2 separate regions of the Homo sapiens genome follow, and region 1 is linked to region 2. A link means that fine-mapping ties the variant in region 2 to the expression of a gene that starts in the linked region. Tissue or cell type: thyroid. Region 2 holds a variant in brackets; the other region holds the start of a gene. All regions are shown on one strand. Distances are between the middles of the regions.

Region 1 (8,104 bases), 89 kb after region 2:
AGGAGATGAGAGTCTTGCTATGTTGTCCTGTCTGGACTCAAACTCCTGGGCTTGAGTGATCCTCCCACCTCAGCCTCCTGAATAGCTGGGACCACAGGTAATTTTTTTTTCATAGAGACGGGGTCTCCCTATGTTGCTCAGGCTGGTCTTGAACTCCCTGGCTCAAGCAATCCTCTTGCCTCAGCCTTTCAAAGTGCTGGGATTACAGGAGTGAGCCACCATACCCAATTCAGAATTCCTATTTTAAAGAGATATATTCTGAAACATTAAAGCAATGTTTCAAAAAAATTCAGGGTGGAGGGAGGCTACAGGCTAGGAGGCATAACTGAAACAAAATGGCTTATAATTTTTTTTTTTTTTTTTTTAGATGGAGCCTCCTCTGTCGCCCAGGCTGGAGTGCAGTGGCATGATCACAGCTTGCTGCAGCTTCCACCTCCCAGGCTCAAGTGATCCTCCTCCTTAGCCTCCCGAGTAGCTGGGACTGCAGGTGCACACCACCACACCTGGCTCATTTTTGTAATTTTTGTAGAGAAAGTGTTTCACTATGTTGCCCAGGCTGGTCTTGAACTCCTGAGCTCAAGGGATCCACCTGCCTCAGCCTCCCAAAGTGCTAGAATTACAAGTGTGAGCCACCTCACTGTTTATTCTTCCTTCTCTTTAAGCAATAGAGGTAAGGAGTCAAGACGATAACATTTGCTTTTTAAACACCTTCTGTCCCCAACCTTAGCATCTCCCTGGATATGATAGGCCCCCAGCCACTCTTCAGTGCTGCCCACTGGGACACAGGCTTCTGATAAAACTGAGTGGCGCTGCAGTACTAGGAGCTTAAAGGGTTACCACTCCAGAGACATTCACTGTAGCCAGGAGGTGAGAAGAGGCCATCTGGTAGTAACACAAAGAAATAAACTGCTATTGGTGAAGTTTCAAGCATCAATGGCAGGCCAAAGGGAGGATATTTCTGAGTGGATTGGCAGTGAGGAGAAAGTCCTCCAAGTGGTTCTCAAATCATGCTTTTTATAGACAGCCCTGGCAGAGGGCATTAAAAAAAATTATTTCAGCCGGGCGCGGTGGCTCACGCCTGTAATCCCAGCACTTTGGGAGGCCGAGGCAGGCAGATCACGAGGTCAGGAGATAGAGACCATCCTGGCTAACACGGTGAAACCCCGTCTCTACTAAAAATATGAAAAATTAGCCAGGCGTGGTGGCAGGCACCTGTAGTCCCAGCTACTCGAGAGGCTGAGGCATGAGGATGGCGTGAACCTAGGACATGGAACATGCAGTGAGCCAAGACCTTGCCACTGCACTCCAGCCTGGGTGACAGAGTGACGTTCCGTCTCAAAAAAAAAAATTATTTCTCTTCTCTGAGCCATGTTATTACCCTGAGCAGCAGGCTTTGAACTCACTGTCATTCAGAAACAGTGCATTAAGTGTGGGCAACGGAGTGAATTGGGAAAACTCTGTTTCCTGAATGTAAGATGAAGAAAAAGGCATTTACAGGCCAGACACGGTGGCTCACACCTGTAATCCCAGCACTTTGGGAGGCCAATGCGGGTAGATCACAAGGTCAGGAGTTTGAGACCAGCCTGGCCATATGGTGAAACCCCATCTCTATTAAAAAGTACAAAAATTAGCTGGGCGTGGTAGCATGCGCCTGTAGTCCCAGCTACTCAGGAGGCTGAGGCAGGAGAATCACTGGAACCTGGGAGGCGGAGGTTGCAGTGAACAGAGATCACGCCACTGCACTCCAGCCTGGCGACAGAGGGAGACTCTGTCTCAAAAAAAAAAAAAGAAAAGAAAGAAAAAGAAAAAGGCATTTAACCTCTCCAGCTGTGCCATGGGCGGAACCTGAGCTAATTGTTAGTGTGTAGGGCCCGGCATGGCGCCCGTCACCTCTAGTAGCAGGTTCTCAGTAAACGCTACTCCCTTCACATCTCCTACACATCCCTGAGGGTATGGAGTTGGTCTGTTAATATAAGGAGAAATGAGCAGAACAGGGCTCTGAAACTCTACTTAGCTGGTGAAAACTCCAACCTCTCCAGCCAGTCCTGCCTCAGACCTCCATGGGCTGCTACCTTTATGCCTTACAGGCATTTTGTGCACGTTTGTGCTTTTTGGTTTGTTTGTTTTAGTTCTTTTGTACTGTTTGTTTGCATATAATTCTGTACCCATACATACCAAGCAACCCCACCTAATGCTGCATCACCCCTACATTACCCTACTCCTTCACAGCACTTATCTGAAGTGATTTTATTTATTTGTGTATTTGCATGATTATCAGTCATCTCCCCTAAAAAGTCATCTCCATGAAGGTAGCAACTTTGCCCTGTTCACCACTTTGTCTACCATATCTGGCTCAAAAGAGGTGCTCCAGAGGGAAGGATAGGCAGCTGGTTGGGAGAGCTGTAGCTCAAAAGGGACCGGGGCCAGTCCTTCTCCCCAGCATGGGCCCTCACTGTGGCCCTCACCTGCACTGCATGTGACCTTCCATCCTTCCTTTCATCTTCCTTATAGTTTTTCTTTTAATATATTTATTTGAGCTTTTAGTTACAAAAGCAGTACTTATTATTTTTTTAAAAATCCAAAATTAACTTTGGGAGACCAAGGCAGATCACTTGAGCCCAAGAGTCTGAGACCAGTCTGGGCAACATAGTGAGACCCCCCATCTCTACAAAAAAAATTTAAAAATTATCCAGGTCAGCCAGGCACGGTGTCTCAGGCCTGTAATCCCAGCACTTTGGGAGGCGGAGGTGGGTGGATCACTTGAGGTCAGGAGTTCGAGACCAGCCTGTCCAACATGGTGAAACCCCGTCTCTACTAAAAATACAAAAATGAGCCAGGTATGGTTGTGGGCACCTGTAGTCCCAGCTACTCGGGAGGCTGAGGCAGGAGAATCGCCCCTCTACCTTTACTGCCTCCCTCTGTAGCCCAGATTAGGATAACTTCCCCAACCACCTGCTGGCTGTAGAGCAAGAGTTCAGGGAGAAAACCACAGGCAGAGGTGAGGGGTGCCATGGAGTTGCTGCAGAGACCAGCCAGGTCAGAGCTCAGGAGCATGAAAGAGGTAGTCAATGACAGACCACAACAAACAAAATAACAGCCTTTTTTTTTTTAAGTTAATGACTCAATAATTTTTTATGAGAAGGTGGGGATAAAGTTTCTTTCTCTTTCAGATCTTGGGTGGTGGACTAACCCAAGCCAAGAAGCCGGAGAATAGAGAGGAGGCAGGAGATGGAGACCTCAGGAGGAGGAAGAGGGGAGGGCCAGAGGGAAGGGTGAAGGCAGGGTGAGTGGAGGTAGTCAGGACAGGAGGAAGCTGGCAAAGACAAGGAAGCAGCCTTCAGGGCCTTCCCCGTGGGGCAGCTGCACACACAAGACTCTCTTTGATGCCTGGCAGGCTGATGGCACAATGGTGAGGATAATAGATGCAGGATGGAGCCAAGAGGGGTTGAGTGGCGCTGGGGATAAGAGAAGACCCTTGCCCCGGGCAGCCACAGGGAGTCTTCCTTGATGGGCACATGATCCCTCACTGATGGGAGCCAGGAAGACAGATACCCAATGCACCAAGGCCCAATTTTGCTCCCCTTCCCCCACTCTGGTTTGGAAACCCTGTATTCTACTTGCAATCTCAAGCCCAGACTTTATTCTTTTTCCTAGCCAATAAAAACTTCACCCCAGAGCTTTTATCCAAAGAGTATGAATATCTGGAATAAGAGGGCAATCTTAGGGAAGAAGTGACCCTGGCTGATGGGCCCACAGTCCCGGGTGCCCCTAAATGCTAAGAGACAGGTCCAAATACAAAGACGAGCATTTGGAGACACAGGAACACATACGTGCGCAGGCTTACACAAGCACATGCACAGCCACATAGCCACACACTACACATACACAAGCACTTATGCACATGTCCACACAGGCGTAGATACTCTAGCAAGCACATACTCACAGAGGCGCGCACACACACACACACACACACACAGGCGTAGATACTCTGGTAGGCACATACAGAGGCGCGCACACACACACACGCACAAATACACACAAGCACACTCACAGGCACATTCACACACGTGGAAATTCACACACAGGCACAGATACACACTCATGCAGGCACGTGCACGAGCAACACGCAGGTATACAGGAACACACACATGCCCAGACACACAAATCCACACACACCCAGGCACCCACTAAAGAGCACGAGCTGGTCAGGGGCAGCGGCTCACACCTGTGATCCCAGCACTTTGGGAGGCCGACACGGGTGGATCACCTGAGGTCAGGAGTTTGAGACCAGCCTGGCCAACATGGTGAAATCCCTTCTCTACTAAAAATACAAAATTGCTGGGCATGGTGGTGGGTGCCTGTAATCCCAGCTACTCGGGAGGATGAGGCAGGAGAATCACTTGAACCCAGGAGGCAGAGGTTGCAGTGAGCCGAGATCGCACCACTGCACTCCAGCCTGGGCAAGAGTGAGACCCTGTCTCTAAATAAATAAATAAATAAATAAAGCACAGGCTCCCACACATACACACTTAAACACATACACGCACACCCCATAATTCAAACACCAGTTGCCCTAGGCCACTTGAGAGTATCCTGGCCAGCTGCCCTGAGTAGTTTACTCTGGGCTACAGCCCGGGCCCTCCTCCTTCTCTGCCCCACCCCCAGCTGGTTGTATAAATTCCCTCCCTTCGCTCCTTCCCCGGAACAGCGGCCTCTGACACCAGCACAGCAAACCCGCCGGGATCAAAGTGTACCAGTCGGCAGCATGGGTAAGGAGAGGGGTTTCCAATCACCCATTGCCTGCTCTGTCTGCCCCTAATTTGGAAGGCCCTCCTCCAGAAAATGCTAGAAAACCTGAGTGGGGAGCTGGGGAGGGAGTAGTGGACTCTGCTTCATTGTCCCCAGTCTGCACACCCCCTCCCCCACCACCCCACTGCATTTCCCAGCTCAGCCAAACTTTCTGAGGAAGACGGGCAGAGGCACTGCTGGGAGATGGGATCCTGGGCCCTGACTTGGCTCCATCCAGCAGAGGCTGGGACCAGGGTGCCTTTCTGCAGCTGGGAAAATCAGATGGGCGCTCTTAGAAAACACCACTAGGTCCCTGGCCCTCACATAGTAGAGAGGTGATCCTGATTTCAGCCATGGGCCAACTTTGTACTCCAGCGAGGTAGGGAGTCCAAAGCCTTTCTGTGCCCAGGTCACTCTCTAGCTACTCCACACAGCAAAGCTCTCTGGGAGGGAAATCAGAGACCCCCACACTCTTTCACTGGGGACCTGTTTCAATGCCTCCCCCACCCCTAAATCCCCCTTGGCCCTGCTATTCCTCCATCTGTAGGCTTCTGGGTGACAGGCTAAGAAGGAACTGAGGTTTGGTTGGGAGGTCCTTCCCCGCTCGGGGCTGGCTCTTGAGCTGGCAGAATGCCGAGCTGGCAGAATGCCCAGCAGCCAGCCTGACATGGAAAACCCACTTGAGCTTTCCATGAGTCCATCCCAAACCCAAAGCTGCTCCGAGACCTTGCTTGAGATGTTTCAGATGGGGGTATTCCCCAGAAAGAGGAATGATGCTCCCTGGGGCTGCAGTGGCATGCCAGGCCTGACCCTAAGAAATGCTGGGGCTGGGGTTGCTGGGGTGTGGGGTGGGCCGAGGCTGCAGAGCGGGCAGCTCCATCTCTGCACTTTTACTTCCCTCTCAGCTTCTCCCTAGCTTTGTATTTTTTGTATCTCTGTCTTGAGGTCTTGGAGTTTTAAAATCTCCTTTCCCTTCTGTATCCAGCAACCTCCTTCCCCACCCCCTGTCATCTGGTGCCAAGCCCCGACTTAGCAAGATTGTGTAACAGAACCAGTCTCCTTAACTCCTGTGAACTGGACCTCTCTCTCTCTCCCTGCCCCACCTCCAGCCCTCTCGCTGGGCATCGAGCACTCCCTGGCATTCTCCTCTCCTCTGGCACAGCCCTTCCCATATTTACACAGTAATTCATTATTTTTTTTTTTTTTTAGTCAGAATTTCACTCTTGTTGCCCAGGCTGGAGTGACTGCAGTGGCGTGATTTCGGCTTACTGCAGCCTCCACCTCCCAGGTTCAAGTGATTCTCCTGCCTCAGCCTCCCAAGTAGCTGGGATTACAGGTGTATGCCTGTATTTTTTAATACAGGCTAATTTTTAATACAGGGTAATTTTTGTATTTTTAATAGAGACAGGGTTTTGCCATGTTAGTGAGGCTGGTCTCAAACTCCTGACCTTAGGTGATCTTTCCGCCTCAGCCTCCCAAAGTGCTGGGATTACAGGCATGAGCCACCGCACCCGGCCTAATTCATTTTTATGAAAGGCCTTTGGAATACATTGTCTTATTTGTCCTCCATATCTACCTAGCAAAGTAGGTAGAATATCATTATTGCCCACTTTTCGTAAATGAAGAGGAGAAAATGGAGAAACGGGGCGTCAAAACTGGGACTTGAAACCAGGTTTCCAGACTCTGAACGCTGTTGCTGCCTCTCAGCTTCCTAAGTCTCTTGGCTGCTGCGAGTGGGAGTCCCAGGCCCCAGTGGAGGCCCCACTCTGCCTACTCCTGGCTCCCCACTTGCGGCCCAGCTGTGAAGGCAGAGGCTGGACTGGCCACAGGACAAGGCAGGAGACAGGGCCCAGGCCTGTGGACTCCACTCCAGGGTTTCTTTCAGCCTGCCACCCCCTCTGGGTATTCTTTAACCCCTGCTCCCCAGCAGGCCCCAAACTCTGATGCTGGGGTGCTGGTAGCTGTGATGTCCCAGCCCTACTGCACATCTGCTGACTTACATCCTGGAGATTAGCATGGCCCCTCTTGCCAGACTTCAGAGATAGGGAGGGTTGCTCCCTATCTCTCTGGTGGGCAGGCCTCTGGGCTCTCCAGAGTTGGGCCAAACACCTTACTTTACAGATAAAGGAAGTGGGGCACACCCAGGGGTAGAAACCAGCCTGAGGACTTCCAGTTGGTATTAGCCCCAGACCCTCGGTTATGTAATCCAGCCCTTGGCTAGCAGCCTGGGATCAGGACCCAGGGGAGAGAAAAGCAGGAAGTGGCCTCCCCCTGATATAGAAGCATCTTGGTGAAGGGAGCTGAGCAGGCGCCACCCCACTCCCTGAGAGCAGCTCCTCAAGAACAGCCAAGGGTGCCTGGGCTTCGACCAGACAAACACAGAGCTGCACACCTACTGCACCCTCGTGTTTACTTCTCGTAAAAGCCCACTGTGAAATTCTTACCATCTCCATTTTACAGAGGATGCAGAAATTGAGGTCGAGGAGCTTCAGTACTTTGCCCAAGCTCCCCTGGCTAGTCAGTGGTGGGCTGGGGTTGGGCCCCGAGTCCGTGTCATATTCACTACACCACACGACCCCGGCTGCATCAGCCCTCCTCCCACCCTCCCGGGGCCCTGCTGGACTGTCTGTCCACCTTCAGGTCATGTGTCTCCAGCTCTTCCCAGCACAACCTCACCCTCCTCAGGGCTCTGAGGGGGCGGAGAGGACAGGCCAGAGCGATGAGGCTGGAGTGGGGACCTAGGCCAGCCGCACTGCCGTGGCCCGCTGGGATGTGTGCTGCAGAACGTGCGGAGGGAGCCTTCACCCTCCAGAGCGTGGCCCAGCCAATGCGCCCCATTGCTTCCACAGCTACGAAATGTGGGAATTGTGGACCCGGCTACTCCACCCCTCTGGAGGCCATGAAAGGTAATTGCCCATGGTCTGAGAGCCAGCGCCCTACTACTGATTCCACAGCTGGGGGTGGAGGGACTTCAGACCTAGCCCCCACCCTCTGGCACACCCAGCACTTCCCCTACCTTTCCTTCCCACCCTGCCGTCCCTGCTGCCTGCTTTCTACCGTGCAGGACCCAGGGAAGAGATCGTCTACCTGCCCTGCATTTACCGAAACACAGGCACTGAGGCCCCAGATTATCTGGCCACTGTGGATGTTGACCCCAAGTCTCCCCAGTATTGCCAGGTTAGGCGGGGCTTGGGCGCCAGCTACTTTGAGACCATAGCTGCCCTCATCCCTGGCCCTGGGCCCCCCCTTCCCAGCTCCATCCTTCTTGGCCCTCCCTGGGGATGCTTGTGCACGCTCAACCTGGGACAAGGGGAGT
Region 2 (8,104 bases):
TCCTATTGTACATATTCAGTAATAAGAGAAGACCCAAACGGACCTGACCACTTATCTACACCAGAAACCTTTAAAAAATTTAATCCTGGCCAACATGGTGAAACCCTAGCTCTACTAAAAATACAAAAATTAGCCAGGCATGGTGGCGGGCACCTGTAATCCCAGCTACTCGGGAGGCCGAGGCAGCAGAATCACTTGAACTGGGGAGACGGAGGCTGCAGTGACCCGAGATTGCACCACTGCACTCCAGCCTGGGCAACAAAGCAAGACTCTGCCTGAAAAAAAAAAATTAATTCTGAATGATACCTCAGTCTTCTCATCTGTAAAACAATGATATTAATCATCATGTCCTTCAAAAATATGAATTGGAAAAGCTATTTACTGTCCACAGTTGCATTCTGAAAATTATGCATGACTATAATAAAATATAAACACTGCTAAATTTAAAAAGAATGTATGCTAGAGGAAAAGGAATTTTTACTACATTTTACTCTGCAATCCATTATCAGGAACAAGTCATATATCAAGCATACCTATAAAATAGTCCAATTTATTTTGTCATGAAGCTTTATGGAGTCAATTTAATTACTTGATAATCATACCTGGTCAACTCCATAGCAACAACCTAGATTAGACAAGTATAGCTTTGCTTCTGGGTATCTCTTTAAAATATTAATTTAATTCGAAGTTAAACTACATCATTACCTCCTAGGAAACCATGCAGCAACTCACAGTGAGCTCTTGATGATGATAACACTGCTGCTCATGCATTTCTTATGAAATATATTTTGAAGACAGAGATCTTAATTGCTTCTTACTGAAAGCTAATGGGAATTCTTCCTTTAGAAACCCAGGCTGAGAACTTCCTCAGGCTTTTTCTCACCTCCTGTGTCTCTAGGAAAGTCCCCAACTCTTCTAAACATAAGAAGGTAGCAAATAATATTCCTAAATAAAATCCGGCCACAGCTGTTAACTTCCCCATTTTTTAATTTGACATTGGTCAAATGTAGATCTCCACTTGCCCTTTATTTCATGGCAATTTGCCTGTCAAGTTAAGCACCTCAATGTTTTCCTTCCACCACACATGCTGACTTATACACATGCTGAATCCCAGGCTCAGTGCAATCAGCTATCCATCTTTTCCACCTGGGAGCTGCTCAGATGGTAAAAATGTCTCTACTGTTTTTCTCTTACGTTTTCTGAAATGAGTAGCTCTCTTTGAGGTTCCAGCTTTGACAATCCTGAGTGTGCATTACAGAGAGTGGGATACCCATTTCTTTCTTTCTTTTTTTTTTTTTTTTTTGAGACGAAGTCTCACACTGTGGCCCGGGATGCTATGCAGTGGCGTGATCTCGGCTTGCTGCAGCCTTCGCTTCCCAGGTTCAAGCAATTCTCCTGTCTCAGCCTCCCAGGTAGCTGGGATTACAGGCATGCACTACCACACCCGGCTAATTTTTTGTATTTTTAGTAGAGACGGGGTTTCACTATTTTGGTCAGGCTGGTCTGAAACTCCTGACCTTGTGATCTGCCCACCTCCGCCTCCCAAAGTGTTGGGATTACAGGCGTGAGCCATCGTGTTCGGCTGTTACCCATTTCTTAAAGAAATCTGGCATTATCTCCCACGAAGCTTATTTCTGCCTGGACTAACCTCACCATCTGAGCCTCCCTACTCCCCGCCCAAACACATACCAGTCAACCTCACGCTGAACCTGAACAATAAGTGATTAGGTCTGCATTTTAGCAAAATGATGCCACCGAGGGCATCCATGACTCAATGCTTTTGAAGACATGCTGAAATCATTTGTCTCTCTTCTTTAACATTCTCCAAGCTACAGGTGGTTCCAATTTTCTTTTGTATGTTTTGTTGTTGTTGTTTGTTTGTTTGTTTTTTGATGGAGTTTCACTCTTCTTGCCCAGGCTGGAGTGCAATGGTGCAATCCTGGCTCGGTGCAATCCTGGCTCACTGCAGCCTCCACCTCCTGGGTTCAAGTGATTCTCCTGCTTCAGCCTCCCAAATAGCTGAGATTACAGGCGCGTTCCACCACGCCTGGCTAATTTTTTGTATTTTTAGTAGAGATGGGGTTTCACCATCTCTACTAAAGACCTTTGGCCAGGCTGGTCTTGAACTCCAGACCTCAGGTGATCTGCCTGCCTTGGCCTCCCAAAGTGCTGGGATTACAGGCATGAGCCACCGTGCCCAGCCCCAATTTTCAACTTGTGGCAGAAACCGTAAGTCAAGGAAGCAAGTAAGTATTTCCATAAACTGTAGAAAAGAAACACTCTCCAGCTATGTAACTGAAAAGCTCAGCTTGGGACATCCATTAACCTTTGACTTTCTTTCTTAGAAAAAGTTTCTAAGTTGGCTACTGAAGACTGGAATAATTTTTAGGAGTACCACTATTAGGATCAAATTTCTTCAACATATCAGACTGGATTGGCTTTCAGATTCCTCCCCAGTATGTTACAGAGGCACATACGAGTTGATTTCTAAGGATCTGATTCAGGTTATTTGTTCTACTACTTGGGTTTCCCATCATCATCAAGATGGTTCAAACCATTATCCAGATGGTCCAAAAGAGAGACCAAAGCTATCAGTTCTGTTACTTCACTCTGGAAACCTGTGTTTTAGCTGAAGAAGCAAAATGTTCCAACACTGTCCAAATTAATATGAGCATTCTCTCTTTAGCACAAGGAATACGTTTCTGGAAATAGCAGTGTTAACTGTATAGTCTCTTTTGAAGTGCTGCACCAGTGTTGTAATGTAAGGTGGCAGAGTTTCCTTGAAATCTTCTGAAGGTATAAAATGTCTTTGCTCATCATTTCCTTTTTTTTTTTTTTTCTTTGAGATGGAGTCTCACTCTGTCACCCAGGCTGGAGTGATGTGGTGTGATCTCGGCTCACTGCAACCTCCACCTCCCGGGTTCAAGCGATTCTCCTGCCTCAGCCTCCTGAGTAGCTAGGACTACAGGCATGTGCCACCACGCCTGGCTAATTTTTGTATTTTTAGTAGAGATGGGGTTTCACCATGTTGGCCAGGCTGGTCTCAAACTCCTGATCTTGTAATCCACCCACCTCGGCCTCCCAAAGTGCTGGGATTACAGGCATGAGCCACCACACCTGGCCAGGATACCTTTTACAACGTCAAAAGACACTCCATTCCCTAATTGCCTGTTGATCTTTACCCTCTGTTTCCTCACCCATTTCCTCAAAGGTGCCTCCAGATCCTGCAAAACTCCCACTTTTACATTTAGCATGATAGACTTTCTGTATTCTTGGTGGCAGGCA[T/C]AGCACCATCACTCATTTTATTGGGCATTATGGGTCAAAACTGTCTCCCAGGGCACAAACTAAATGACAGAAAAATAGAGAGGAGTAAGTAACACACCACAGAACTCAATCACCTGAAGCAGCAGCTTCACAACTCCCATCCTGGTCCAAGCTACCATCAACTCTCACCTGGATTATTGCAATAGCCTTCTATCTGGTCTCCCTGCATCTGCCCTTGCCTCTATTAGTTATTCTTCACAAGCAGCCACAGTGATCCTTTAAAAACGTGAGTCAGGCCGTGTCACTACTTGCTTTATGATCCTCCAGCAGCTTCATTTTCACTACAGGTAAAACCTAAACTTTGCTTCACTTTCTTCAGGTCTTTGCCCAAATGTCACCTTAACAAGGACTTCTCCAATCACCCCACATAAAATAGCAAATTCTCCACCCCCATGTCTGCACCACACTCCTAATTCCCCTATCCTGCCCTTTACCCTTCATAGCACCTATCACCATTTCATATAATCCATATTTATTTACATAATGTATATCAGATTGCATTTTCCAAGATGGCCACAAGATTTCCCTTTCCGCACACTTTCTTACAATGTGACATTTCCACTATTCCCGTTGAGAGATGGGGATCTATGCTCTCCATCCTGTAACTGTAATGGAAGTAACACTATATGACCTCTGAGACTAGGTCACGATCTCTGTCTGGTCCTTTTGGGGCACTCAGTCTTGGAACTCAGCCACTATGATATGAGGAAGCCCAGGCTACATGGAGAAGCCACTTGTAAATGGTCTGCCAACAACCCCAGCTGCGGTCCAAGCCAACAGTCAACCTCAACTTCCAGACATGTAAGGAAGCTTTTGAGATTACTTCAGCCCTAGCCACTGCATACGAGACTCCCAAGTGAGAACTGTTTAGCTGAGCCTAATTACCTCCCAGAACCATGAGAGGTAATGAAATTGTTGTTTTAAGCCACTAAGTTCGGGGTCATTTGTTATTTAACAATAGACAATAGAACAATTTGTTTATGTGTATATTTTATGTCTCTTTCCTTCTAGAGTATAAATCCCACAGATTCAGGTATTTGTTGTTGTTGTTGCTGCTGTATTCCCAGCACCTAAAACAGTGCCTAGTACATGTGCTCAATAATTTTTTTTTTTTTTTTGAGACAGGATCTTGCTCTGTCCCTCCCAGGCTAGAGTGCAAGTAGTGTCATCATAGCTCACTGCAGTCTCAAACTCCTGGCCTCAAGTGATCCTCCCAAGTCTTCCAAGTATCTAGGAATACCACAACCAGCTAATGAAAAAAATTTTTTGGGGCCAGGCACGGTGGCTCACGCCTGTAATCCCAGCGCTTTGGGAGGCGGAGGCGGGCAGATCACGAGGTCAGGAGTTCGAGACCAGCCTGCTTGGTGAAACCCCGTCTCTACTAAAAACAGAAAAAATTAGCCAGGCATCGTGGCGCACGCCTGTAGTCCCAGCTACTCAGGAGGCTGAGGCAGGAGAATTGCACCCAGCAGGCGGAGGTTGCAGTGAGCCGAGATCGCGCCACTTCACTCCAGCCTGGGGGAGAGAGCGAGACTCTGTTTAAAAAAAAAAAATTTTTTTTTGTAGAGATGGGATGTTGCTAAGTTGCCCAGGCTGCCCTCAGACTGCTGTGATCCTCCTCCCTTGGCCTTCCAAAGTGTTGGGATTACAGGTGTTAGCCACCATGCCCAGCCCCCAATAAATATTCATTGAATGAATGAATGGATGCATGATCCATTTTCAATAAAGCATGCTAACAGTTACTGGTCAACGGTATATGGCATAGTCTGCGCTAGATCTCATTGGCTGGGAGAATAAATTGACAGGGCATGGGGAAATATGTTGGAATTTTTCAAAGGTTAATAACGTAATATACATAATGTAAATATAACATATATAATGAATTATACTAATTACACGACAGTATAAAATAGGATTTGAGTTTCATGTAGTCTTTTGGTGATTGATCCCATAATCCTAATATGGGCTTCTCCAGATCAGGTCTGGAAAGTCTTCAGAAGTATTTTCAGAAGGATTTAGTGATTCTTCTCATTCAAATAATGAAGTCCTTCCTAAGCATCCTACACTAGTGGAAATCACTCACATGGTTTTGGTATGAAATGGAATGAAACTGGGTGGTGGCAGTGTGTGTATGTGTATGCACATGTGCACACTCACACGGGCAGGTGCATACAATTTGGAATGCCTACTTCCACTGCCTATTTTCAGTCTGGTGGTTTGAATGGAGTGTGTATATAAAGAGCACAAATAAACATAGTTCTGGATTTCCCCTTTCTGCACCAAGTACCTTGATTTCACATTTGGTTTGAAGCAAATATTTGTGTATTGCTTAAATAGCAAACATTTTCAAATATTCAAGGAAAATATTACATTTTTATAATCTCAGAAGGCAATAAAGGACAAAATTTCTTAGCTACCTGAAAAGAGGTAGTTTTTGTCTGGGGAAGAATAAACAGGTGGATGGTCGTTTGAGTGGACTAACCAATTTCTTTGAGCCAACCCATCTCAGCCTTGATTGGAGCAAAAAGCATAAGGATGTGGAGTGTGTGTGGTTTCTTGGAACTGGGGATCTCTGCTGAATCTACTCACAATGGGAGCAAAGCAGTTTCCATCACAATAATCGCTTTAACAATCGTGTGCCACTTCTTTCCAGGATCCAGAAGGGCTTGAGGATCAAAATGGCTTTTAAAAGTTCTTCACTTAAACAAGGCCGCAGCCACAAGGTTACTTGGCCGAGTGTCTCTTGAGAAAGAGTGAGTGCCATTTTGTTCTTTGTTCCAATGACAGTTGTTGGTGCCACTGGGCCTCACCACCTGGCCTGTGTCATGAAGTCTCCCTCTTGACTGGGTCTAAGCCTTGAGTGGAAAGTGGGGGAGCCTCCCAACACTTCCTTGGAAACTCTTGGCAAGTAAATTGGGGAATATTTTCTTTGGAAGTCTCATTTTTCTCACCAAAATTTAGATATAGCTTCTGAAGCTAATTATTCTTTTTTCATTACAAAAAATGTTTTCCTTTATTTATTTATTTGCAGGCCCAGCCAAACTTGACTAGAAAAGAAGCCCGGGCAGGGGTTTGGATGAGCCCATGACGTGCAGCGCGCTCCGACCAATTGGGAGGCCGTGAAAAAGGGGAGGGCGGAAGTGACGAGCCGTATCCCTCCGCGGGGCGAGAGGGTCGGTGGGGGGAGTCGGCGTCTCTCTCCCCCGCGCCAGCTCCCGTACACGGAGCCGCATTCCTTGGCCCCCCCACCCCCCTCCCTCGGGGCCCCCCCGCCCCCCTCGGGAAAAAAATCCACCCCGAATCACTCGAACCCGAGGGAGGCTTCCTTTCACCCTTGGGGAGACGAGCTTTCAACGGTTACCTCTTCTTCGTCTCCCCCCAAGCCCCCGTCCCCTCCCCCTGCTCCCACCCCCTTCTGGCGCCGGGTGTAAGGTCCCTTTAAGGCGACGGCGCCTTCCTCGGGTCAGACTACCGGCGGCGACGACCACAGGAGGTGAGTGAGCGAGCGAGCCTTCTCTCTCCCCACCCCCTGCTCCCGGGGGTTCCGTTATCTTTTCGCTCGGCGAGGCGTTCAGAGGCGAGACAATGAGAGGGGGATGGGGCCGGTACGCGCGGGGGTGGGGGCGGGGGGCCGGCGGTGCGCGCCCCCGCCCACCGCGAGTGGCGGCGCGGCCCGCGGCAGGGGCGGCCGCGGGGTGCGGCGCGCGAGCGCGAGTGTGTGTGCGTGCGCCCCGGGCCGCGGGAGCCGCGCGAAGGGCCGGCGGCGGAGGTCCCTGCCTGCCGGCTGGCCGGCCGCCCCCGCCCCCCGGCGCCCGCCGCGGCGCGCGCGCGCGCACTCGCGCCCCACGGCCCCGCACACAGCCCGACGTCCACACGCACGCTCGGCGCGAGGCGTCTCGGAGGAGTGGGCGGCGCGGGCGCGGGCGGTGGCCCGCTGGGGAAGGGGCGGGGGCGGGGGCGCGGGCGGTGGCGAGACGGCGGGGCGCGGCGGGAGGGGCCGGCGAGGGGGCGAGGCCGTGCGGCGGAGGGGCGGGCGGCGGCGGAGCGGCCCCTGGGGGTGGGGGTGCGCGGCCCTCCCCGCCCCATTCCCGCTCCGAGAAGGAGTGGGGCGCTCGTTTTGAGCGGGAGGAGGAAAATGAGTGATTGCTGAGCCGATCCCTTGTGTTATGTAATCTCTGCTTGGTCTAATAGTACATCCTAAGCCTTAGTGCACTGCAGCTAGTTTACGAAGTCTCCTCCCTCGGTCCCCAAATTTCTTTTGGGATGGCGCCGTGATTTATAAAATGGAATGAGGCGGGGAATCTTTATTTTCTGGTGATTATGTCCTGCCGCGGTGGGCGCCATGTTTATCCCGGGGACTATTTTATTTAGATTCTTGGCACCTTTTGCAAAGGAGTACTGTCATTGATCTATTTGTTTTCCGTCTTTCTGCGTGTTGTTCTTATTTCCTTCCTCTCCAGATGTGGGATTCTCTCAAACTGCTAGTAGCACTTGTCTTAGACATTCTTAGTTCAGAAAAAGGTAGTGCTGATGAGTCCTTAGAGTCATTTAGTGGCCAGTCTCATTTTCGAAATGGAAACTAAGATGCAGTTGGACTATCTCACAGCAGCCGCCGTCTTGATGCAAGCGGTGTAGCCCGTCCTTCCAAGCCCGTAGACACCTCTTACCGCCGCTCAAAACTCCACAGAAATGGGGTTTTACTTTTTTTTTTTTTTTTGAGACGAAGTTTCACTCTTGTCGCCCAGGCTGGTGTGCAGTGGCACGATCTCTGCTCACTGCA

Which allele goes with the higher level. Positions count from the first base shown, and alleles are read on the strand shown. Sizes are in standard deviations (SD) of each study's normalised expression.
In carriers of allele C in region 2, the expression in thyroid of the gene that starts at base 4,702 in region 1 tends to be lower than with T alone (moderate effect, 0.57 SD a copy in GTEx).

The links. PIP is the estimated chance that this variant, and not a neighbour inherited with it, causes the effect.
Region 1: it holds the start of SELENBP1, and the variant in region 2 is fine-mapped to the expression of SELENBP1 in thyroid (GTEx, PIP 0.95).

The regions. Positions count from the first base shown.
Region 1 is chr1:151,369,303-151,377,406 of GRCh38, reverse strand. SELENBP1 (selenium binding protein 1) reads left to right here and starts at 4,702. Exons shown (of 12, transcript NM_003944.4): 1 at 4,702-4,769; 2 at 7,638-7,694; 3 at 7,853-7,965. The coding sequence starts at 4,766. RefSeq lists enhancers at 4,181-4,764, 4,765-5,348, 6,095-6,765, 6,766-7,437.
Region 2 is chr1:151,457,865-151,465,968 of GRCh38, reverse strand. It overlaps POGZ (pogo transposable element derived with ZNF domain), which reads left to right and starts at 6,475. Exons shown (of 19, transcript NM_015100.4): 1 at 6,475-6,817. RefSeq lists an enhancer at 6,205-6,254 and silencers at 7,085-7,134, 7,325-7,374. The variant T/C (reference allele first, on the strand shown) is at 3,286.